Linked DNA regions of Homo sapiens: all the other regions are linked to region 2. Evidence: fine-mapped expression QTL. A gene starts in region 2. Each other region holds a variant in brackets. All regions are shown on one strand. Distances are between the middles of the regions. Region 1 has its middle 49 kb from the start of SECISBP2. Region 2 holds the start of SEMA4D (semaphorin 4D). Region 3 overlaps LOC105376137 (a long non-coding RNA gene).

What was found. PIP is the estimated chance that this variant, and not a neighbour inherited with it, causes the effect.
Region 1: its variant is the best candidate, but not a certain one, in a credible set for the expression of SEMA4D in tibial artery (GTEx, PIP 0.62).
Region 3: its variant is the best candidate, but not a certain one, in a credible set for the expression of SEMA4D in whole blood (TOPMed, PIP 0.58).

Annotation. Positions count from the first base shown.
Region 1 is chr9:89,363,028-89,371,206 of GRCh38, reverse strand. It overlaps a transcript of SECISBP2 not described here and a transcript of SEMA4D not described here. Among named protein-coding and RNA genes, the nearest start is that of SECISBP2, 49 kb to the right of the region's middle. RefSeq lists enhancers at 6,309-6,809, 6,810-7,310. The variant G/A (reference allele first, on the strand shown) is at 4,245.
Region 2 is chr9:89,494,806-89,502,963 of GRCh38, reverse strand. SEMA4D (semaphorin 4D) reads left to right here and starts at 4,851. Exons shown (of 16, transcript NM_001371194.2): 1 at 4,851-5,045. RefSeq lists silencers at 4,762-4,951, 5,382-5,531.
Region 3 is chr9:89,530,061-89,538,239 of GRCh38, reverse strand. LOC105376137 (a long non-coding RNA gene) reads right to left here. Exons shown (of 3, transcript XR_930102.3): 3 at 6,778-8,179. Among named protein-coding and RNA genes, the nearest start is that of SEMA4D, 36 kb to the right of the region's middle. RefSeq lists enhancers at 1,878-2,047, 2,317-2,486, 5,817-5,986, 5,819-5,988. The variant T/C (reference allele first, on the strand shown) is at 3,772.

The sequences.
Region 1 (8,179 bases), 130 kb after region 2:
CACCCCAGATACACACCACACCCCCCCCACACACACCTTATACACCCCAGACATAACACACACCCCACACCCCAGACATACACACCACACCCCCCCACACACACCTTATACACCCCAGACATAACACACACCCCACACCCCAGACATACACATACCCCTGACACACACCACACCCCACCCCAGATACCACACACCCCACACCCCGACATACCCCTGACACAGCTCACCCCAGATACACACCCTACCCCAGATACACACCATACCCCAGACACACAACACCCCCCCAACACACACCATCCCAGTCACATGCCACACATCCCAGACACACACCCCACACGCCACATCCCACACACACACGCCCGACACACCGCACCCCAGACACACACCACACCCACACACATGCCACACCCCACACATACACCCCACCCCACACACACATCACACCCCTCACAACCACACCCCACACACACACCACACCCCACAAACTACATAGACTATGCTAGCCACATACCACACACCAGACACACACACCACACATGAGCATGACGTATACCGCACACATGCCATGCACTGTACCCCCCCACACACATCCCAGACACACATACCACACACACTACACAGACCACACAGCAGACATACCACACACCAGCACCACACCCCCTCACACCACATGCCACACACACCACATGCCAGCATCACACACACACCATACCTCCTTCATACACACCACACACACAAACCAGACACACACCTACATACCACACACCACACACCAGCCACACACCACAAACACACCACACACACCACACGCCACGCATATATCAGATACACCACATACGTACAGATACACCACAATATACACCACACGACACATGTACCACAACACACACACACGACATAACACGCACACACATCACAAACACAATCATGTCCACCACACAACACACACACCATGTGCATGCACACAATAAATGCACAGCACAAAACATCACATACACCAAATCACACACACCACACACACATCAAACACCATACACACAGACCATGCATACTCACTGCACATGTGCACACATACCAACACACACCACACACACACACTGTACACACACCTAAAACCACCCCCATACACACCATACCAAACACAACCACTCACACATGCACCACACACAGCACAGCATACAACACACATCACACACACACCAATCATACCACTGTTACACACACACCACCACACATACTGCACACACCAAAGCACATACACACCACATAGACACATGCACGCTACCCACACCACACCAATCACATCCACACATACACAACCATACACACACACACACACATTGTTGACTTAGGATCGTTTCAACTCACAGTGGGTTTATTGGGATGCAGCCCCGTGGCAAGTGGAGCAGCATGTGTATTGACAAGGGGAGGAAAGCCGTCTGGAGCTGGTGAAGTAAAGTTAGCATGCAGCCGAGCTCTGCTCGTCTGAACTGATGAACCCAAGTTCCTCATGGATCACTCAGAATACAGATGGGTGAAAAAATAACCCCACCACCCGTGTGCCAGCACATAGCGCATCTGGCATACAAACGTAAGGATCAATAGCGATGAATGGCGATGGGTTGTGTCTACATGCAGATACAAATCATGCACTTGTACATTAGTGTGCACACACAGAAACAGATCGATATAATTTTTTAACCAAAGTGCAGTCTTTACCCTGTCAGGGCCCTGCCTTCACCTCTGCCAGGACTATCTTCCATGTCAAGTTTAGACCCGTGTCATTTTCAAAGCTAATAATGGTTCCCCCATACTTTAGGCAGCATTTAGATATTTGGATTTGGGATGGCCTTTTATGTTTTAACTACAGTGTTAGAAATCAGAGCCCTTGGAACCACTGGGATCAGAGGGCAGCAGCAGAAGGCGCCCTTGGTCCTCTTTGAGGGGCCCAGGGCTCTGGAGAGGGCCCCCGTTCCTAGCAGCCACAGTGGCCTGTTGGCACGCATGTGTGTGTTCCAGCTGCTCTGTGACATTTCCCTTTGTTTCAGACTCTTGAAAGGCCACGGCCGTCGTGGGAATTAGTTGACCTTGTGTGTTGGGCCACCCTTGCTGGACAGGACAAGGTGGTGCTATCAACTCCCTGTGCTCTGAGGTCCTTCGCATGTTAGATGAGGCAGCTTCACCAGAAACTATCCATGTCTCTTCTGTTATCTGGGATAATTCCACGTGCCTTTACAACACAGCTGTCTGGTTACCTGGGGTCTGGAAATGCCCTCGGTGCCTCAGTGGTGCCTTCCCACAGGCCCCCCATGGAGCCAGGCGATGCCTACAGATGCCTCAGTGGTACTTTCTCAGGTCCCTTTGCAGAGAAGAGGTTCAGGATTCCTGCCCACATTGATAAGGCGGCTTGGCCAGTAAGTGGCAGGCATGAACAGGTGCATTCCAGAAGCGCTGGGGCTGGTCCAGTGCCCTGAGTGGTCTAGAGCATACCAGAGTGAAACGTTAGGCTGCGTCGGCCTGGTGACTGTCAGGGAGATGAGGACTCAGAGAAGGGAGCTGTCAGAATTGCTACCTATGTGGCAGGGGTCTCACTCTCTCCTCCCTCCTCTTGGGGCCCCTGGCTACTCTGTGACTTCAACAGAGGACAGAAAGGATGACCAACAAGGCCTCAGGGCATACCCCCAGCTGCACTGTCCTTGTCCCCAGAAGGGTCCCCAGAGTCTGGGAGGGAGGAGGGGCCATGGCCAGGATTAGAAAAGACCGTGCCCCAAGGAGAGAGCACAGAGATGGGCCAGGGAAGCAGTGGGATCCTCGGGAAAAGAGGCTGGGAGCAGGTGTCCGGGTGAGGCCCGGGCAGCGGGTACAGGCAGGGACAAGCCAGGAGTCCCATCATGGAAGACATGATGGCCAGCGGCCAGCACTGTGTGCAGAGAATGGCCCCTCTGGGGATGTGCCCGCTGCCCCATTAGTTGCAGGAAGGCCACCTGGATGTGAGTTTGGGAGATGGGCTGGCCCCGAGGCAGCCAGCCCTGAGGTCAGAGTGGGCCACATGCATGGGGATGCCGGGAGGACACAGAGGAGTGCTGCAGGAGATGGCAGTGGGGGCACTTTCCAGGATGGGCCCGAGCAACTCAGTCACTGGGTGGATGTCTCACCACCCCTCCAGGCCTTCCTCAGGGCGAGGCCACTGCCCAGAGGGCACCTGGTTTGTCGCAGAGTAGAATCAGCTCCATATTTTGTAATCACATCCACGAAGCTCTGAAGCCATGGTGGTCCTGGCACCAGCTGGCTCCGTTAGAGGCTTGGGGTGGGAGTGAGCAGGTGGGAGGTGCCCCAGTGACAGGCTGAGTGCTGGAGCCCAGGCTGCCAACAGCCTCCCCAGACTCCTGAGTTGATGTAATAAACCCAGCCCTGGTGAATAAACCTGGCCCTTGCTTATACCAAGGTGATCAGTCTTCTCACGACAGTCCTAGCTGTAGGAGAAAGATCATTACCTACGGCATCTGCCACAGCAGTTAATTTGCCTTCAACTTAAGCTAGTTGCAGTGACAGGAAGGGCCAGGGGGAAATATCTGTCCTCAGGACCTCTACCCTAGATCCTTGTAAGCCACAACAACTTCCCTTCTTTGAGGGCGCGACCAGTGTCACCTGGCTCGCCACTGGGAAGAGCCAAGGCACATCCAGGTTGGTGGCTGCTGAGCCCCACAGCATCAGACCAGCCTCTTGTCCCCACCCCACAGAGGCCAAGGGGGTGATCTGGGAGTAGCACCCCAGCCTGGCCGCTCTCTTGAGGTAACAGGGTTGGATGGTTAGGGAGCTTGGAGCACTGGCCCAAGCAAGAAAACAGTGGTGTTTTCAGGAGGCCCTGCTGGGAGATGGAAGACAGCTCCCCACTGGGGGCCTAGGATTCCAGGAGCTCCCCAGCAGTCCTCCGTGGGACATACGTGGGTTTGCACCTGCTGCCCTGTCCCGCTGAGGGTGCGGTGCTGATGGGGTGGCCCTGCACACTGATGGTAACTCTCACTTTCCCTCTCTCTCATGCATTCAGAAAGAGATGGATAGTTTAAAAACGAATACATGGAACGTAAGTACTTCTTTAACATCTTTAATGTCTTATGATGATCAAGCATGTATTTAAATAGTATTTACTGATGCCTGTTAGCAGTGGTAAGCACGTGTCTGTTTCTGCTCACACCCCAAGAGTGTAGAGCTTTGAGGGTTTTGCAGTCAGTGGTCCCATGATG[G/A]GGCGTTGGGTGATTAATCCAATCCAGCTTAGGCCACCCAGATTCTTAGTCTCAAGGGCTTGGTCATGAGAACCTTCCAGAGGCTCCTGTGACTCAGTGACTCCAGTCCCCTGGGTGGTTCTTGGTGCAGGTCACATGAGGGAGGAGACCGGGCTTTTATAGAACTCACTTCACTGTCTGTTCAAAGAAAAGTGTTACTTGATCATAACAGCTCAAAAAAATCTGTTTCTTAAAATGAGATTTTACCTGGATGCCCATCAGCTGGGAAAGGGAATATCTATTCCCCAGTTGATGGGCACCTAGATGTACATAGAGACATATGTTTGTACATCTATGTAATATGTACTTATATTTGTAGATAGATACATGGAATTATCTGTGGCCAGAGTCCAAAACATTTTGAGTGGGAAAAAACAAATTATAGAGTGTTAAGTTTTGTTTTTTTTTAAATTCTGCACAAAAACCAAACCTGTTCACAAGGGCTTGTCCACCAGGCCAGGGCCAGATGGGCCGCCAGGCAAAACAGTTTTGGAGCACCTTCTGAATTTCCTTGAGTTTACAGAATGTTTCCTTCAAAGTAACACTTTTATAAAAAATTATTATTATAAAAGCAATGCTTGTTTGTTATAAGTTTGGAAACTCCAGGGAAGTATAAAGAAAAAATTTAAACAATCCCAAATTTAACCATCCAGAGGTAGTTACCACCAGCATCCCAGCCATTTTTGGGCCATGACTATCTACGTTCACACATGTATACATGGGTGTGTACATATATGCACACATTCCTAGATATTGTTTCACTTATTTTTCTGTGTTGCTGAATATTCTTCGATGGCACTTCGAATGAGTGACTTGTGGCCCCCTTCTTGGACATTTCCCAACTCCTCACTGATAGAAACAGGGCTTCACTGGGCCCATCCTTGCCTCGGGACTCATTCCTAGGACTGCCCAGCTAAAGGGTCTGAGCTTGGTCAAGTCCTTGGGAGGAGCATTCTCTGGTGATCCTGGACAGTGGGGAATTGTTGACCAAGAGACCGGACAAAGATGAGCAGATGCCACAGTCAGTAAAGCAGGGAAAATGCATTACTAAAGTCAGCTTCATTAAACTGGCGATCTCTTCTTTTCAAAAGTCCAGCATGTGCCACAGAAATGGAAAGCTCTCTGGCCACTACTGTCCTGCCCAGGGAGGGGAGCGTGGGTCCACCCACACCATTTAATACCTGTAACTGGATGCACCTCTGCCCCTACACCTGAGAACAAGGCCAGTTTTTGTGTGTGCAGGTACTTTGGACTCTTTTGGCTCTGGAATTTGTTTTACCTGCTCAGTGTTCTGAACTCCTTCCTTTTCACTACTAAGCATTCTCCATGAAGCCACACTTCATTTTGTCATTGTGAGGTTGATGGACATCTAGGGCAAATCTAACTTCTAAAGACCAATTCTTACGAGGTGTCATGGTCAAGCAGAGGCCATGGCCGGCACTGGTCTAGGTGGCCCATGGCCCATTTGGGGGCCTTGGTGGGCCTCGAGGAAGGGCAGGTGCTGGTCAGGGAGCCGGGTCGCTAGGCAGCAGGTGGGTGTCACCCCAGTCCACGCTGCTGGGGTGCCTGGCCTGATGCAGGCTGTGCCTGAGGGAGACAGAAGCAGCAGAGTAGGCTGGCCGGCCTCCCCAGCCCCACCACAAGCAGGAGCTTCAGAGACAGAAGGAGCACCTGCACCCCCTCACCTGCCCTCCAGGGCCTGGCCTGGCCCTCCCAGCTCAACTCCAGGGTCTGTACGCTCTGGGGCTGGAGCTTAGTGGGACTGTGGCCCCCCTCAGCCCTTTCTGCATTTGAGTGGAAGCCAGTGTGCGAAGCAGATCAAAATGGATGTGCTTGTTTTTCCTTCAGTAAGAACAGGGAGTTGAGCCTGTCCCAACATGGCCAGCAGCCCCTGGAGGGCCAACAGACTTCACGAGCAAGGAAGGCCGGGAGGTGACCTGCTGACCAGAACTTACTTGTGCCCCTCCCCCCCGCCCAAAACCCCCAACATTCTGGTTTTCACAGCCCCACCCCAGCCACCTGGAACAAATAGTGTCTAGGAGTAGCCCTCAGGGTTGGCCGCGCAGACTTCTTGCCCTGGGATGAGGCTGGCCTCCCCAGGCGAGGCAGCCTGGGCCACAGGGGAACGTCTCTGCCTCGCCCACCCTCCTGATCTCTCCATCAGACAAGCTGAGGCCAGCCAGGCTCCACCCTGGCAGGTTGCAACAGATGGTCTGAGTGTGTGTGAAGTAACTGGCCTCTCTACTTTCTTCAATAAGTAATTAAGATCAAAAGCCCAGAGAAAAACAACAGAGGTTTGCGGCAGAAGTGGCCAATGTCGGGCCCAGAGTCCATGCTCAAGGCTGGAAGCCCATCCTGGATGTGCTGCACTCGGCAGTCCTAGTGTAATTCTGCAGGGCCTGGCCCCTGCCAGGGTCTGAGCTCTCCAGCCTGTGGCATCTACTCCCCTCCAAGCCCACCCCAGTGTCTCAATTGGAGAGACAGGCCCTCATGGTCCCCACTCTGGCCCAGCCCCCTCTGCACACAGCTGGCCGAGCTCTGGGCCTCTCCATGCTGTGGCCCTGGTGATGGCAGAGCCTTGGGATGTCTCTGTCCATGTGGTCACAGGACATGTGTGTGGCAGCAGGGCCATGGTGGGGTGGGATGCTGTTCCAAGGCCCAGAACCATTCTGTAAGAAACCAGCACAGCGCTGCAAGAAAGGGGGTCCTAGGGGACACAGGCCACACAGGTGTGCTTTGAAAAATGGCAATTAAGGTCAAAGAGCAGGAAGTCCACAGGACGGGCCAAGGCCAAGGCTCCCGCTGGCCATGGGGAAGCCACCTCCAGGGCAGTCCCAGGGACTGAATTGGAAGTTGTCCCAAGTCACTTCAGGTCCAACTGGGACAGCAGAGGTAACCCCCCTGCACCCTCATGGGGCAGCTTCTTTGGGTCCTAAATGTGGACTCAGAGGTGGAAACGGTCTGTGTCCCCAGGTCCTGCAGACATTCGCTTTGTCTGGGAGAAGAATGGGCGAGCTCTGGAGACCTGTGTCCCTGTGCAGACCCATGCACTGCCCGATGGCAGGGCCCATGCACTCAGCTGGCTGCAGGACGCCATCAGGGAAAGCGCTGAGTATCGCTGCTCTGTCCTCTCCTCAGCAGGGAACAAGACTTCGAAGGTGCAGGTTGCTGTGATGAGACCTGGTAAGTGATTCCCATGCCCACTGTTACCCTTTTATGAGGTAATTTTTCACTATTTACAATGGCAGTGAAAAAAACAGCTGGAAAGCATGCTTGCACGGTGGCATTCTGGGTTTGGGTTTTATTGGCTTTCCATTGAGAAAGGTGGCCAGTGGGCATCAAGGGTGCCATAAAGGCCCACAGAGCTTTGACCTGGGGACCCTGCTTGTTTTCCAGAAGTGACCCACCAGGAGAGGTGGACCAGAGAGCTCTCTGCCTGGAGGGCTGTGGCTGGGGAGCACGACCGGATGATGCAGAGCTGGAGGAAGGCGTGGGTAAGTGGCCGCAGCCGGGCAAAGAAAGGAGGGCTGGAGCCAGGGGCAGGGCACCTGCCACATCCAGTGGATCTTTCAAGGGCCCCATTCAGCATGGACCCCACTTGTTCCCTCTTAGCCCCGGAGCAGTTTCCTTTATGAAATCTGCAACACTGGGGGGGGAAATCCCACGTCTTGTTGCTGAGACTGCAGGAGATCAAGGGGCATCTGGCCCCAGCCCTTAAAAGAGACTGAAGGGAGGCGAGACTGGGAGGGACTCACAGGTGGGGCTGTCTAGTTAGATGGGCCCCCACGACCACCCCATTCTCTGTACAGAGCACTCAGCCAGCCACTCCTTTGAGGAGGGCAGGAAACCTGGACAGATGGGGAACCCTCCAGGTAGCTCCTGGCTGGATGCCTCAC
Region 2 (8,158 bases):
TAACTGAAAGGAAGCATTTCCTTCGGGTGTACATGCAGGCAACAAACACAGCCACATCAGCAGTATGTAAGGACTTCTCAGCAGAAATCACAGCGATTCTCACATCACATCATGCTCGTTACAGACTTTAAAATATCGGCTGACTTATCATGACTTGGAAACTACAGCTATCAGATCTGCCGCCAGAGCATATTATTAAAAAAGAAGCAAGTAGATCACATTTTAAAGTATTTTGGTAGCTGGATTTCAGTATAATTCATTTCCTTTTGAATCCTGTATTTGACTTTATGCATTTAAACACATTACTCTGAAAAGAGTTCTGTAGACCTCACCACTCTGTGAAGTTCAAAATGTAGACCAGAGAAGAAAGAAAACTATCAACAAACAATTATAATGGAAGCTGGTGCAGGCACCAAGGAAGTGACGTGTAAGGTGACATTCGAGCTGAGGAGCAGGGTGGGGGATATTAGCTCTGCCCAGGGTGCATGGGTTTGTGTTGGAGGAAATGATGCCAGGGCAGAGCCTTGACACATAAGTGGGTGTCTGCCAGCCAGCCAGGGATGCGAAGAGGTCCATGGTCTGGCAGTTGGTGACAGCAGTCACCTTAAAGGTCAGAAAGGCATTGCTGGGGCAAGTTCACTTGCTGGGGCAAGTCTAATCCAGCAGACACCAGCACTGATTAGATCAATGGTCAGATGGGGCCACATCAGCATCCTGTACACTCCCCAGTATGACGAAGGATGGCTTGGTAAACCATTCTGCATGTTCAGTGATGTGGGAAGTGCTGCCATGAGTGTGTGCACCAAAAATGGATTACACCCCTTCACCAGATTTATCTAGCACTTAGTGGTTTGACAGTTGAACGCTGTGCAGGAGCACAGAGCAATGATAACATCTCAGCACGGCCTTCATTTCTATGCTTCTGCTGGTGTGACCCCACGTTTCCAAGTGTGGCTTTAACAAAAAGAGCTCTGTGGGTCCTGTGGGGGTCTCAGTGGCAGTAAGGACATATGAGGGTGCTAGAGGTGCCTGGGGATCTCAGAGCCTTCAAAATCCCTTTCGGCTTCCTTCATTGACATGTTCTAACAATCAGGGTGCCTGACAGAGACCGGTGTGGACTCTCTATTTTGGAGAGGCTGGCCAGGAAGGCCACACTCTTACCAGCCTTTTCTGGGGTGCGGGGAGGAACAGAGCTAGGAGTAGGAGTCACAGCATGGTCTTGGCAGCCACTGCATGGTAACAGTGGAGGTGTGGCTCACCCACGTCTCTGCAGAGTGTGGTCACATTCAAAGGACATCTCCCCGGACTTTTCTAGAAGCTGCTGGCAGGTCCCAGAGCCAACCTTCCCACAGTCCCTCAGAGGACCCCGTTTCTCCACTTGCTGTGCTGACTCTCTCTCTAAGCTTAGCCTGGACACTCTGCATGCCACTACAGGTGAGAGGCGGCAGGCCGACTCTTTCTGAAGACACCTCCTCCACTGCGTAAGGCTCCACACTGGGCGATCTGGAAACGGCTCCCAGCCCACTACGTGCCTGTTCCCTCCTGCACTGCAAAGTGGAAGCAGAGGATCCTCTCTCCTCATATCCACCTGGGCCGTGTTGGAAGCTGAGTATTATTTGTGCTGCCATACTTGAGTTTTTTTCTCATATGGGACTTAACTATTATCAATCCAGTTACTATGCTCATATGCATATAGATGGTGTCAACATTCTGGCTGGGAAATGCAGAGAAACTTTGCAAAGCATGGTCTCAGTATCCAAACACTTGGCATTTCTGGGGAAACTAGGAAATAGATTGGTTAATATGATCTTTGATATGCTTGAACTTAATATTGGAGGGGAAAGTAAGGGGGTGAGAGGTAAGGCAAGATTGGAGTTCATTTAGCTACTTTTATTTTTATTTTTTGAGACTGAGTTTTGCTCTGTCGCCCAAGCTGGAGTGCAGTGGTATATGATCTTGGCTCACTGCAACCTCCGCCTCCCGGGTTCAAGTGATTCTCCTGCCTCAGCCTCCTGAGTAGCTGGGATTACAGGTTTGTGCCACCATGCCCACCTAATTTTTGTATTTTTAGTAGAGACGGGGTTTCACCATGTTGGCAAGGCTGGTCTCGAACTCCTGACCTCAGGTGATCCGCCTGCCTCAGCCTCCCAAAGTGTTGGGATTACAGGCGTGAGCCACTGCACCCAGCCTGCTACTTTTATATCTATGTTTGAAATGTCCCACGACAGAGTGTGAAACAAGAATAAAAAGGCAAGCTTGGTCACTTTGGGAGACATAGGCAATCATGCTGAGAGAAGGGAACAGGGAAGAAGGTCAGAGAGGAGGGAAGAGGAAGACCTAATAATGGCATCCAAGTCCCGGTTCTAATGGTACTTGGGGCATCTTTGGATGCAAGTGAGCCAATAGTATGGGCTGAAGTTCTATCACTTACAACTAAGAGTCCTGTCTCCTTCATGAATGCAATAAACATGTTTGGGGGCAATTTTATATAAGCACGGTGCAAAGAAGCCCTTGTGTTCGCAGCCTGGGCATTGCGGAAAGCTTTTTGGAGTTTTTACTGAATTCTCTCATGTTCTTCTGTATGCATTAGGAAACAGGCTAGAGAGGACAGTATTCTGGAAGGTCATGATGCCAGAAGTGTGGGCCCCAGGACAGCCATGCAAAGTCTCTTCTTTGCCCTGGGCTGCCCTCTATTAGATTCTGAGCATGTGGGTCTAAAAGCCAGGAGAGAATTCAGCAGTTGTTGAGAAGCATACCCCTCTGCTGCTGGTCCCCTCCCTGCAGTGTGTTCCCAAGGTGGCCCCAGGCCTGTCTAGACGCTGGCTGTGAAGGGCACGCTCCTGTAGGGGCAGCCGGCTCTTCCACAGTGAGGTCTGTCAGAAAGCGCCCACGATAGGCAGGAATCCACTTTCTCATCTAATTTCCACCCATCTGTCCTCATTCTGCCCTTCATAACACCACAGAGTAATCCTTCTTCCCGGGACAGTTTTGCACATATTGGGGTTCTTCTGTCTTGTGCTCCACACATTGATTTTCTAGGCTGAAGACTCCCGGTGGGTCAACTCCCCTCCCACGGGATACTGCTGGCTGCCTTAGACACCAAGCAAGGGCATGGTATTCTAGATGTGTCTGACTAGTGAGGAATAAAAGAGAGTCCCCCCACCCCACCCCAATCAGTGCAATGCTTGCATGTGTAGATCCTAAGCGTGCATCCCTCCTTGGGTATAGAATGCTGTTAAACCAGTTCTGTCCTAATCCGTTCCCATTATGTTTCAATCCAAATGGGATGTGGAACATGGATTCATGGACCCCTACAATTGGAAAAGAGCTTGGAAAAGACTTCTCTAGTTTTTCCTGTAATAGTCACCAGCACTGAACCCGAGCACACGGTGCAGTGGGCTTTACCTGCCATTCTCTCTCCGTGCTCCCCAAACCCTCCAGGACGACCACACTGTCCTCATGTTGCAGGGTACAGAGGTTTGCTGAGGCCTGAGGTTATTTGGAAACTGCAGAGCTGTGAGTCAAGGGAGTCTATCAGATTCCAGGTCTGGATTCTTCAGCAAGAGGGTGGTGGCTGCCATGCCGTAGAGGGAGGAGGGGGTGCGTGCTCCACCCCACCCTGCTTGACACCAGCTTTGCCATCTTAGCCTTTGCTGGGCCGAAGCCCTATTCTCAGAGCTCCGGCACTGAACCACAGAAACCACAGGAGGCCCTAGAACGGAACTCTGAGACTGTTGGGCCTTTAACTCTGTGACTGTTGGGCCTGGGACTGGCTTCATTTGTAAACTCTGGCTCTCAGAGCCAGTGCTCAGCAGGAAAACAGCCTCAGGGCCCCTGCCCCTCAACAGCAGTCTGTAGTCCAGGGAGGTATCACCTGGCCTGGAGAGGGGCTCCCCAACTCCTCACATTTAGGGGAAATCTTAGCTGGTTCCGTAAGAAACTGTGTCCCCTTCTCAGGACTGTGTTCCTCAATAGGCCTCCCAGCCTGGCCAGTCACTGTGCGAGCCCTGTCACCTCTCCTGGGGGCAGAGGGAAGAGGTCTGGATGGAGCAGCACCATCTCTGAGGGCCCCCAGATCCCCAAACCCATGGGCTAGTCACAAACAAGTCTCACCAGCAGCCTCACAGGAGGACCATTTGCCATACAGAGTGGAAAATGATGAACGTTTGGCAAAAGGCTAGCACGGGGGTTCAGGGAAACCAAGACTCCAGGTGGTGCCAGCCCCTCCCCTGGGGAATGGGAGCAGCCTGGTGTGAAATATTCTTGCCCAAAGTCAGCAGCCAAGTGTTCTGGGTGCCACGTGCCTCACGCACACTGCAGGTCAGGTTCTCAGAAGAGCTGGCCCAGGGTCTGGGGGTGAAAAAAAACTGGGGGATTTGGGGGAGGCCTGGAAAGGGTGGGGTTCATCCAGGACCCCAGAAGGGGCAAGCTTGTCTATTGAGAGCTGGTGAGGAAGAGGGTGACAGGGCACCTCTTGGTCCTGGGAACGGGTGCTTGACTCAGCAGAGACCAACCCAGGGCTGAGGGACAACCCTCTGGGCCTGGCGGGGAGGCAAGAGAGATGGGAGGTGAGGAGGAAGGAGTGGGGAGCAAAAGTGGGGAGAAGGGGAGAGAGGTGGAAGAGTGTTGCGAAGGTGAAGAAAGAGGAGGAAAAAGAGAAGGGAGGAAAAGAAAGGTTGGGGGAGGGAAAGGAGGGAGGTGAGCAGGGGCGAGGAGGAGGGAGGAGGAAGGAGGAAGAAAGGGGCGGGGCCATAGGAGGGAAGAGAAGAAGGGGGAGAGGAAGGGGAAGGGAAAGGGGAGGAGGCGGGAAGGGAGGGGGAGCGGAGGAGGGGCCTGCGCGCCCGCCCCGCGCACTCCGTCCCCGCGCCGGCCTCAGCGCTCTCGCGCGCCGCAGCATCCCAGCCGCCGCTGCCGCCGCCGGGCCTCCCCGCCACCCCCTCCCCGGCCCGGCCGCCTCCCGCCGCTGCCGCCGCCGCCGCCGCCGCCATTCCTGGCGCCCGAACTCGCCCGGCCGGGAGCCGCCGCGGGCAGGACGCGCGCTGCAGGTAAGCGGCCGGGCTGGCGCGGGAGGGAGGGCGCGCGGGGCCGGGCAGGTGCGCTGGGGGCGGCCTGGACCCTCCGCGGAGCCCCCACTCCACACCCCTAGGCTCCTCACCGGACCCTCGGGGCCCTCCCCGAACCCCTGCAGGAGCCTCCTTCTGGGATCCCCGGACCCCTGGACTCCTTCCTGGATCCCCCCGGGGCCCCTCCTGGGACGCCTCCCAGAGACACCTACCCGGACCCCTCCGACCCCCTGGACCTCTCTGCTATCCCTCCCCGGCCTTCTCCCCTTCCCGGTTGCCTCCCCAGTCCCTGCGCGCAGGTGGCTCCTCTGGGCGCGGGGGAGCGGGGGCGCGCTGCATACCCGGGCCAGGGAGGGGGCGGTGCGCTCGGCCAGGCCCCGTCGCGCCCCGGCCCGCCCAGTCCGGCCCCGCCAGGTCAGGCCCCACTCCGGCCAGCCGGGCTCTGGCCGGGCCCCCGCGGGCTTCTATTTTGGTCGCGGAGGCCGCGGACCCTGTGCACTGGACCCGGCGCCGCGCACTCAGACAGGTGGGGCAGGTTGGGCCGCAGTGGTCAGGTCGCCGCCTTGGCAGTGAGTGCTGCAGGCCTCGGTTTCCTTTCGGGTTTTGGTTGCATTATTCTAGAACAGCCCAGGAGAACCACAAGCCTTAGCTTGGGCTGCACCTGTTGCAGCCGCCTAGTGAGCTGCAAGGGGCTGGCTCTACTGGGGTTATGCCAGTAAAAACGTGTAAAGGAGAGTTGAACTCGTGGTTGTCCTCTATTTTCTGGCTTAGTATTTTGGGGGGTAGGTGGGAGAGTGGGTGAATGGGAGTCTGTAAGTGGGCAGTTTGCGTCAAATGAGGCCTGGTGTCGAGGGCTGGGTCCTGCTTTCCGGAAGGTTTTCCACATGAAGTTGCTTTGCTTTTGTTTTGAAAACCTCACTCTGTGTTGAGCACATCCCAGGCTCGTGGGTGGCCAGGCCCCCGAAGGCCAAGCTGGACGTGGGGCCTGGGGCCAAGCATCTCACCCTGCTGTTCTGAGTCTTTTCAAATCCACCAGGCGCCACGGAACGGAAGTTTCCTTTCCTGGGGGTGACGTGACACCAGTGGCCTGTCACCTCATATGTGTCCTAGGCCTGGGGCCTGCCTGCTGGCTGCCCAGGCGAGGTTATTTGGGAATGTTTACTGTGTCCCAGAAACAGGCAGCTCTGGCCAGTGCAGGGGCAGGATTCTGGTAGAGATGATAATGCCCTGATTGTCATTTTGACAGTTGGTGTCTGCGTATATCATGTCTTGGTAGTCGTCAGCCAGAAGAAGAAAGCAGGCGGGCTCAGCATACCCACCAGGGAGGCTGGGGTGGGAAGATGAGGGATGCACTGGCCTGTTTCTGTGAGCAAAGACTGCCCTCCCATAAGGCCAGACCTTCAGACTGAGAAGAGTGTACGTGGTACACTCAGCGAGTCAAACAAAGAAATAGAAACACATCACTGGTGCCAGGAGCAGCCCTGGGGTCCCAGGAGGGTGGGCCGCTTAGGAGTTGGTAGACGGTGGAACTCAGTGGCTGTATTTCAGAGTGCAGACAGGCAAAAGGCCACCGTGGGGATGCAGAGCCCCAGCTGCCATGCCAGCCCAAGGTCTTGCAGCACAGCACAAGGGAGGGACTCCATGGGAGGGGGCCCACCTCCTGAGAAGCACACCCAGAGTCTGTTGAAAATGCAGCCTTGCACAGACCCCCCTGAGTGCCTGGGGTCCTGGGCTGAGGTTTAGAGTGCAAGACCAGCGACCATGTTGCATTTGATATCCAGTGGGTCTGGGGCCAGGGAGATGTCCTTGGTGACATCATCCACTTGTGGACAGTCCTCTCCATGTGGACCGCTGGAGGCAGATGTTACCTAGAGCCGCTTTCCCCACACCAAGCGGGTGTGTCTAGGCCAAAGCTTGGGAGTGCACGCTAATGGCCAGCTTTGACTGAGGAGGGAGGGAACGTCCGCTGCTGACAGCACAACAGCAAAATCAATAATGCATTGCAAAGATCAATGGTTTTCTCTATCTTCTGTGCTTCTGCATTGAGGCTGTTCAGGCTTCTGCCTCTCTTGGTTCCATTTCTGTTGGGGAGGGAGGGATGGGCGGGTCCAGGAGGGTGGTTGCAGATTCTCCTCCTGACCCCTGGAGCCAGAGCTCCAGGGTTGGAGCTAGGACCCATGGGGATGAAACTTGCCACGTGAAAATATAGAAATAAACGTGCCGTCGGCTGATTGTCGAGCCTAGTTGCTGAGAGAAAGGCTGCTGCCTGCTGTTCCCAACCAGGGCAGTTATTTCTTCTTTGAACTTGGACAATTCCAGGAAGAAGACTAGAAGGTGAGAAGGGAGGTGGCAGAGGCAGCTGGGGTGGGTCCTCTCTTCCCTGGGCCAGGGTCCGCCCTGGGCTTGGCAGGTGCAGTTCCTCAGCCCTGCCCATTGCATCCCCATCCCCATCACCATTGCCGTCCAGGGTCCAGGGCTGCTGGAGGAGATAGCTGCTGATTCAGTCAGGTGGAGAGGGTGTGCCAGGGCCTTCCCTGGAAGCTGGGTGGTGTTTTAGGTGCACTAGTTAAGGCGATCCTTGGGATAAGCAAATTGCTTTGCTGCTTGTGGGTCACTTTTCAGCTTCTGTGACCCTCCCTGAGCGAATTTGCCTTTAGCTGGGGGTGTCACAGCAGGGGCCCCAGCTTTCTACTGCCTTGCTGCTTCCCCTGGGGCATCAGCAGCCGCCTTCCCACAGCACCTGTGCAAACCTCAGTGGGGGGCAGGCAGGGTCCTGTTATTTGGTCCAGAAGTTTCAGATGCTGCCCATGAAAGCAATGACTGCATCCCTGCCCTGGATCACATCTAAGTGGCACCCCAAGATTTCTGGCTTCGATCAAAGCCTGATCCAGGCTGTCACTTGGATCAGCATTTGATCCAAGCATCACTCCTTTGAAAACTAGGCTATTGATGTGTCTCATGGACATTTGTGGAGTGAATGATGATTTTAAGGAATTCCTTAATCACAGCATCGTGGTTATGTTAGAATAACTTTCACCCTTTAGCAATAGATACTGAGTGTTGGTAGATGAAATGATGTTTGGGATCTGCCTCAG
Region 3 (8,179 bases), 35 kb before region 2:
TTTTCCCTTATTTTATAGGTCAATCTACTCCTCAGGAGGCTACTGCCAGACACTCAGTGTTACATCAATGCTGTGTAATAATACTAGCCAGGAGAGACCAGACTCACTGTGCCTGCAGGCTGGGCCCAACAAACAGGCTCACAGGGCCGTGGAGCAGGGATTGCTTTAAAAGGAGCAGTGTGTACAGGGAGTGGGGATGCTGAGGGTGTTTTTGCACACCTACTACACTCAGGAAAGTGTCTTGTGGGATGAGACAGGAAAATCTAAGACCTCTGCCTCCGAAGAGCTTCACGTCTAGGAGAAGGCAAGGCCCTCAGGCACAAGATAACAGCAGCAACCAACCTGGGCCCAAACTGGCAGCTCCTGGTTACTTGAGGAGTCCCAGCTCCCTTGGGCTCGCAATGGCTGTAGGCGAGGGGCTGCTCCTGTCAGGTCCCTGCAGCTACCTGCACAAGGTCCTGTGCATCTTGGTGCTTGATGTTGGCTGAATTTAGCAAGATAGTCTCATTTGGTTCCAAATGGCCCATCCCTGTTAATGACCACTCCCAGAGGGCTCTGAGACGCCACTACTAACTATGAAATTCATAGTTCAAGGACAAAAACAGGTGTCCATGTGGAACGCTCTGAGCACGAGGGTTGAGAGCCAGTTTCCATCTTGGTCATGAGCCACTGCAATGTTAGGAACCAAGTAAAAAGGTATGCCCAAGTTATTTTTCCTGCCATAGATTATAAATGACATCAGGGCATGGAAACACATTGTGTGCTTTCAGAAGAGCAGGAATTGCATTTTCTTCCCCCTCAACATGATAAATCCCATAATAAAGAACAGCCGGCCCTGAGTAACAGCCTGGAGGAATCTGGTTGCCAGGCATAACCCAACGACATGTGTCTTTCTGGTCTTGATCAAATGTCACTTATTTACAACAAAACTACCCGGGCTTCTCCTGGGCTCTGAAGACAGGAAGCCAAGGGAGCGCCTGGATTATGGCTCAGCACTCTGCAAAGGCCTGTCCTGCCCTTGACATAGCAGCAACTCTAAAGAGCTTTCTCCTGGTTGGGCACCTCACTGGGAACAGTCCCCAGACGCCCTTCCAGCAGGCACACTGAGCCAAAGCAAAGGCCCAGCGGCCATCAGCATCACCTTCCTGCATCAAAGGTCTCGCTGGTCACTTGCTGATGTTCTCTACGGAGACTCCATGAGCCTTCTGAAGCCCATATGGGGAGGCACAGCCTGCAGGGCACTCGGCTTCCAGATTAATTGGAAATCAGGCGCAGAAATGATCACAGAACTGAGATGAGCTCTCCCCACTGTCCTGGGTCAGGGTGGAAAGGCTGCCAGGCTGTACCCTGCCTTCATGGTGGAGGGGCAGTGAAATCAACACAACCCAACCAGAAGAGGAGGCCCGCCACCTACACGCTGGCTGCCTGGGGACAGACAGCTCAAGCCAGTGAGCCTCAGCCTACACACTGATAAGAACAGTTACCAGTTTTCAGAGAACTGTTGAACACATCAGATAAGGTAACTAATAAGGTCCTGGACCATGCATAAGTCAATATACAGTAGACATTTCCCAAACGTCTTTTCTTATATTGCTTTCCTTATTTAAAACATGCATATACACATATGTATATATGTGTGGTTTTACATATATATATATTCATTGTAAGAAAAAAAAAGTAAAAGGCAAACACAGAGAAGCAAAAACAAAAGAGAAAGAAGAGAGAGGAAAAAAAGGAGACCACTTTGTGTTCTCACCTCCCACATCTAACCGTTTCTAGCAAGTTTGTCCACTTCCTTCCTGCCTTTTCTCTGCACATAGACACACCTACATATGTGAGGGGTGATGTGTGCTCCAACTTCCATATTTTCATGTAATATTATGCCATGGATAGCTTTGGATGCCATTACGTCTTACTCTCCAGTGTTACGTTAAATGCCTGTATTTTAAATCCATTTGCTACGGATGCACCCAAGCAACTTAGCTCACACCAGTGCCGGGATCCCCTTTTCTTTTCCTGTTTGTTCACTCTGAGACCCATCTTTCAAAATCACCTTCTATCTGATGAAATCACACTGTGCACTCAGAACTTTACTCAGATGATTGAGTAGTTTGTTTTATTTTGCTTGTGATTTTTTAATTCCTTCTTCTGAAATTGTAACACCAAATGGGATAAATAATAATGTCCTGGAAATTGTATATGGATTCCTCCACAACTGAGAGCACTCTCCTTCCTGCACGCTCGTCAGGCCTGCTTCATGGGGTCCCAAGGATATCTCCCAGACCTGCTATCTCCCACCCTCTCCCCCTTCCTCTTGGCCCCACTTGGGACCTCAGACCTCCTCAGGACCCTGCACTTGTCTTTGGGTTCTTTAAAGTCAATCACTTTATGACATCCTCAGCCCCTGGAGGTGGTGCCCTCCTTCAAGGACTTTCCTTCCTGGTGGCTGAAGGACAATTGGTGCCTCTCCTCACCTGCTGGCCATTTGTGACCCCCCTGGCAGGTGTGGGTGTCCATAGAGCTGAGACAACCAGGGGTCCCTGGGGGCTCAGAGGGTGTGAAGCAGGGCAAGGTCTCGCTGCCATGGGGCACCATGAGCACATCCTATACCTGAGGGCAAGGTGAGGCAAGGCCAGAATGCCAGCGCAGCCCCAAGTGTGCCAGGTGGAACTTGACAGCTGTCAACAGAACAACAGTTGTGCGGAAACTGGGACATTTATCACATTTCCACTTGCCTGACAAGGTAAAGACTGCAATTTTTCATCTAAAAAGGAAATTAGAACTCATTGCCTTGATTAAATATTCTGCACTTATTTACACCCACAACCCCAATAAAACTCAGACACACACAGGGTCCTACACACACACACACACAGCCTTATACACTTGTACACACACAGCCCTAAACACACACCAAACCTACAGCTCTACACACATGCACACACACACAGCCCTACACACACACAGGCCTATACACATACACACACACAGAGTTCTATACACACACACACCACCCTACACACATACACACACAGTCCTACACACACACGCAGCCCTACACACACACGCCTACACACACACACAGAGCCCTACACACATACACACACACAGCCCTACACACATACACACACACAGCCCTACACACACAGCCCTACACACACACACACAGCCCTACACACGCACACACACAGCCCTACACATACACACACAGCCCTACACACATACACACAGCCCTACATACATGTACTCACAGTCTCACACACAGCTTTCCATGCGCAGGTATGTGTGTACACCCTAGAACTGTGTGAGCAGGAGTGTGGTGCGCAAAAGGCAATGGTTTTTCCATCTCCCATGTCCTTTTTAGTGCTGTCCATTTCAGCTGTCATAAATTATGACCTGAGCTAACGCATGCAAAGTTATTAGGTTACCATGTGTTCATATATGTCCTGTGTGAGCCGGAGCCATCCAGCCCCCACAACACAGACACCCCCACACCCTCATCTGCAGGCAGGACTGGCTCTCCGCCCCCTGCTGTCAGCATCTCAGCTCCTTCCGCAGACTCTGGTGCAAGCAAGCAGCTTAATTATTTACAACAGGAGATTCCCGAAAGAGCCATCAATCCTTCCATGGAAAACCTCCACAGACGGCTGGCCCCTGGGAGGCTGCGCATCCCTCACCTCAACTCTTCACCTGGCTGCCCCATCAGCCCAGACAGTGACCCCGTCCTCGCTAAGCCCCACCTCAAATCAGACATAAGGCCCTCATGGACTC[T/C]GCCCTTGCTGCCCCCACCCCACATACTCTGGGCCCCCCTTCCCACATGAGCAGGAAACGCAGCTTTTAGTATCCTGGCAGTGGAGGGTGGAGTGGGGGCAAGATCTGGGGTCTGGCATTCGACCCCTGGATGGAAATCATGAGTGATTCTGATTATTCCTCTATGAGTTTCTTATTTTCTAACTGACAAATATTATTTTTAAAATTATTAAACTACAATGGATAAACATTACTTTATTAATCATAAGACCATCACCTGATGAAAATTAGGCAAGAAAAGGAAATTGAGTTCTGAAAACCATTCGAGAAGAGAGCTAAAAAACAGAGACCAATCTAGCTATCACATCAAAAATAGGACCCAGTTAACTGGTAGAAGGCATTTCTGACAAGCAGCAATGAACGCACAGTGCACAGGGGGTCACATGGCAGCTGGTAAGAATCTCACTGGACTGGGTCACTCCCAAGGCCCACGCTGTCCTCCAAGGCAATTTACATTCCTCTCCATCATCAGCCATGTGGATTTTTCATTAAAACAATGGCTGCTGTTCCTGGATGACCTGTTACAAACCATAATCAATCAACCTCCTCCCTAATGTCACAAACTGCCACCGCATTACACACTCCAGGAGAGATGCCAGGTTTGACTGGCACAGCTCCGGGCAAAGCTATCTGCTTGGCCCAGGAGAATCCTCTCCAGCCCTGCTTGACCCTCTCCTCAAGCCCATCCTTCCCAGCACAGAGCCACAGACACTGAATCAGAGGGACATCAGCCTGCAGCATGCTGTCCCAGACTCCGTGTCTTGCCAACCACCTGAAATATCACCACGATTTTGACTGTCACCATGGCAACTGGAAAGTTCCAGGGAAGTTGGCCCGAAGGCATCTCCCAGGATGCACCCCCAGCCTCCTGATGTGCAGCGCTGTCTCCTATGTCTGTTCAGGCTGAGGACTTGGTGCAGGGCTGAGGATGCCTATGCTGGAGTCCACCAGCCTCGTGGGAAGCAGCGTGCCCTCCTGCTGTGAAGCTGTGGGTGAGTTTCCCTAGGGGTGAAGACTAGATAATGTCCCTATGTCAGGAGTGAGGAGCATGCCTGAGAGACTACAAGAAAGGCTTTGTATTAGTTGGGGTTCTGGAGGGACAGAATCAATAGGATATATGTATATATATATATGGGAGTTTATTAGGGAGAATTGGCTCACACAGTTACAAAGGCCAAGTCCCACGCTGGGCCATCTGCAGGCTGGGTTATGAAAAAAGTCAGTCCAAGTCTGAAGGGCTCAAAACCAGGGAAGCCAACAGTGCAGCCCCCAGTCCTAGGTCAAAGGTCTGAGAGCAACCAGGAGGCTGCTGATGCAAATCCCAGAGTCCAAAGGCCAAAGAACCTGGAGTCTGATGTCCAAGGACAGGAAGAGAAAAAGCCTCCTGCTCAAGAAGAGGGAGAGAGAGAGAGAGAGAGAGGGAGAGTGCTGGATATCCATCCTCCTTCCACCTGCCTTGTCCACCTGTTCACCCCCAGCTGACAGAAGGGCGCCCGTCCACATTGAGAGGGGGTCTTCCTCTCAGTCCTCTGACTCACAGACACACCCAGAAACTGCTTCACCAGCCATCCAGGCATCCCTCAATCCAGTCAAATTGACCCCTTTTAACCATCACAGCCTTCATGCCATCATTGTGAACTGCTGGGCCTGGAGCCATAGTCCGCCCAACACCAGGGTGACTCCATCCCTATGCAGTATGGTGAGGGACAGGGCTACCTGGAAGTGATAAAGCAGCTCTCATCAAACAGGAACTATTGACTCACTGGCACTCCCAGAGCCTTTCAAGCCAGAGAGCCGACGGTGGCAATGACAGAGTGTGGACTGCACCCAGCACTTATGAAGGGGCTGTTGTGTGCTGAACAGAAACCTTGGTCAGGAATTCCAATTATAAATGGCAACCTTTGTCACTAGCATCATTACAAGCCATCCTTGTTCCACTGGAGTTCTCGTTGCACATGGAGCTGGGCAGCTGCATTCCCCTGCACAACACAAGAGGCAGGTGGGCCAAGACCCCAGCCACTCAGCTGGAAGATTCTCTCCCATCTTGCATATTGCCACATGGATAGCTCAGAGAGGTGGCATTGTCCTTCCCATTCTGCAGACTACAAAACTAAGTCTCAGAGAGCTCAGGCAGCTCTCAGGTCACTAGATAGCAGAACTCAGATTCAAAGCCCTTGTCATTAGTGTTGTTGAATAAAATACGGACAGCCTAGTTAAATTTGCATTTCAGATAAACAGCAAATAAACTTTAGTATAACTATATCCCCAATATTGCATAGGAGAATATTTTTGTTGGCTAAGCCTGGCAACCCTGTTGCAACTGATGTGTGCTCTCATCACACGGAAAGCAGGTGGCCACTCATAGGCTAGGATGCCCATGCTGGTTGCTGGCTGGGGCTGAGCCATGGAGATGTGGAGGCCCCAAATCCTGGCCATTTTCAGGCCATCTGCACCACCGTGGAAAATCTGCCGGCTCTGGGAGAGATGGTGCTTAGCAGAGAGGCTGTGAGCCTGCCACATGAATGGCCACCCCTTCTGGGCACCAGGTCCTGCTGTACTCCAAGTGGGGACCATGGAAGCAGTTCACGATCCCTGCAAGGACTCCAGGCCCCAGAGGGATGCAGGCTGACTCTCACCACTCAGGAACAGTGCTGTTCTCATAGCTAAATTGGAGGATGATTCTTCTTCTGACTCAAGTCTGGTCCAAGCATGTTCACACACCTAAGCCCACCATGTCCAGCAGAAAGCATGACCCCAGAGATAAATGGGATTGAACCCCTGGCTCTGTGTGCACCCCTTTTTGTCTTTCAGGCCCTGACAGTAGAAGCTTCCTGGACCCATGAGGGAAGGATGGCACCCAGCTAGGAGCAGAGATTCACCCAGGGGCCCCCAGAGTTGCTTTTCTTGTTTCATGGATTCCTGGTTCAGTTCTATTCCTGGCAGGATAAAGTGTTTTTTCCTTTGGTGTTTTTTTTTTTTTTTTTTTGAGATGGAGTCTTGCTCAGTCACCCAGGCTGGAGTGCAATGGTGCGATCTCAGCTCACTGCAACCTCTGCTCCTGGGTTCAAGCCATTCTCCTGTCTTAGCCTCCTGAGTAGCTGGGATTACAGGCACCTGCCATCAAGCCCAGCTAATTTTTTGTATTTTTTTAGAGACGGGGTTTCATCATGTTTAGGAGGTTGGTCAGAGTGGTGGGAGAAACTATAGGGAAAGGAGCAGGCCTTCTGAAAGGTCAGAAGGCTCTGCATAGTTTCGGGGGAGAATAGCTGAAGACAGCTGTTCTCTAACCCTGAGGCAGAGGGCAAGGAGTAGGTACAAGGGATTGTAGGGAAATTTATCTTAAACAGGCTTGTTTACTTATGTTGGCCAGGAGCTGACCTGTGATCATCCGCCATAAGTTCCATAAGTTCCCTGAAAGGGGAACAATAAATGTTAATTACCCACAGATTGTGTATTGCTTCAGGCTTTTAGCATTGTGCCTGCACTCAATAAAAGCAAGCAGCTCCAGCTTCTCGAGGATGCTGTACTTTGGCCACTAGAGCCTGGAAGTCCCCTAGCTGCTCTTCCACTGCATACCTGTGTCTGAGTACCCCGTTCATCCGTCGATTGGCCAGGGTCTGTGGGACAGACCCGGCAAGCATATTGGCTATGCTGGTCTTGAACTCCTGACCTCAGGTGATCTGCCTGCCTCAGCCTCCCAAAGTGCTGGGATTACAGGCATGAGCCACTGTGCCCGGCCCAGATAAAGTCTTTAAGAGCAGTTATTGGAAGTTTTTCATTGTGTTGCCTGCTAATGAGAAAACTTCCATTCCACAAAGACCTCCAAGCATAGAGATTAGTAGACAAAAAGCTAACTCTCCAGGACAATCTGTTCGGCACAGAAAAGTGCATAGAGCTGGCTTTCAGGGCCAGTGATACAGGAATGGCCTCACCGGCTGCTTCTCAAGCACTATGTGACTGTAGCTGCCCTCAACCTGTGCTCTGGAGGAGGTGATAAAGGGCAGTTGTCTCTGTGGACCAGCAAGAAATTAGACAGTTATCCACCTGGTCATTCAACCTAACACCTGAGACAGAATAGTCACCCAAACAGGGCATCTCATTTTCTGAACTACATCACTGTTAATTGTAAAAAGTCAATATACATATATCTATGCAAATTTATTATATACACATAACTACTGTATGTATTATACACATTACAAAACATACACCAAAACTTTTAAAAGATAAGATAAACCTGAAAGACTATTTCCAAATGTTCTGCTAAAAATGCTAGCTTAACTATTTACAATAGCCAAGAGATGAAATCAACCTGTGTCCATCAAGGACACATAGGATAGAGAAAACATGGTGCATATCCACAATGGGA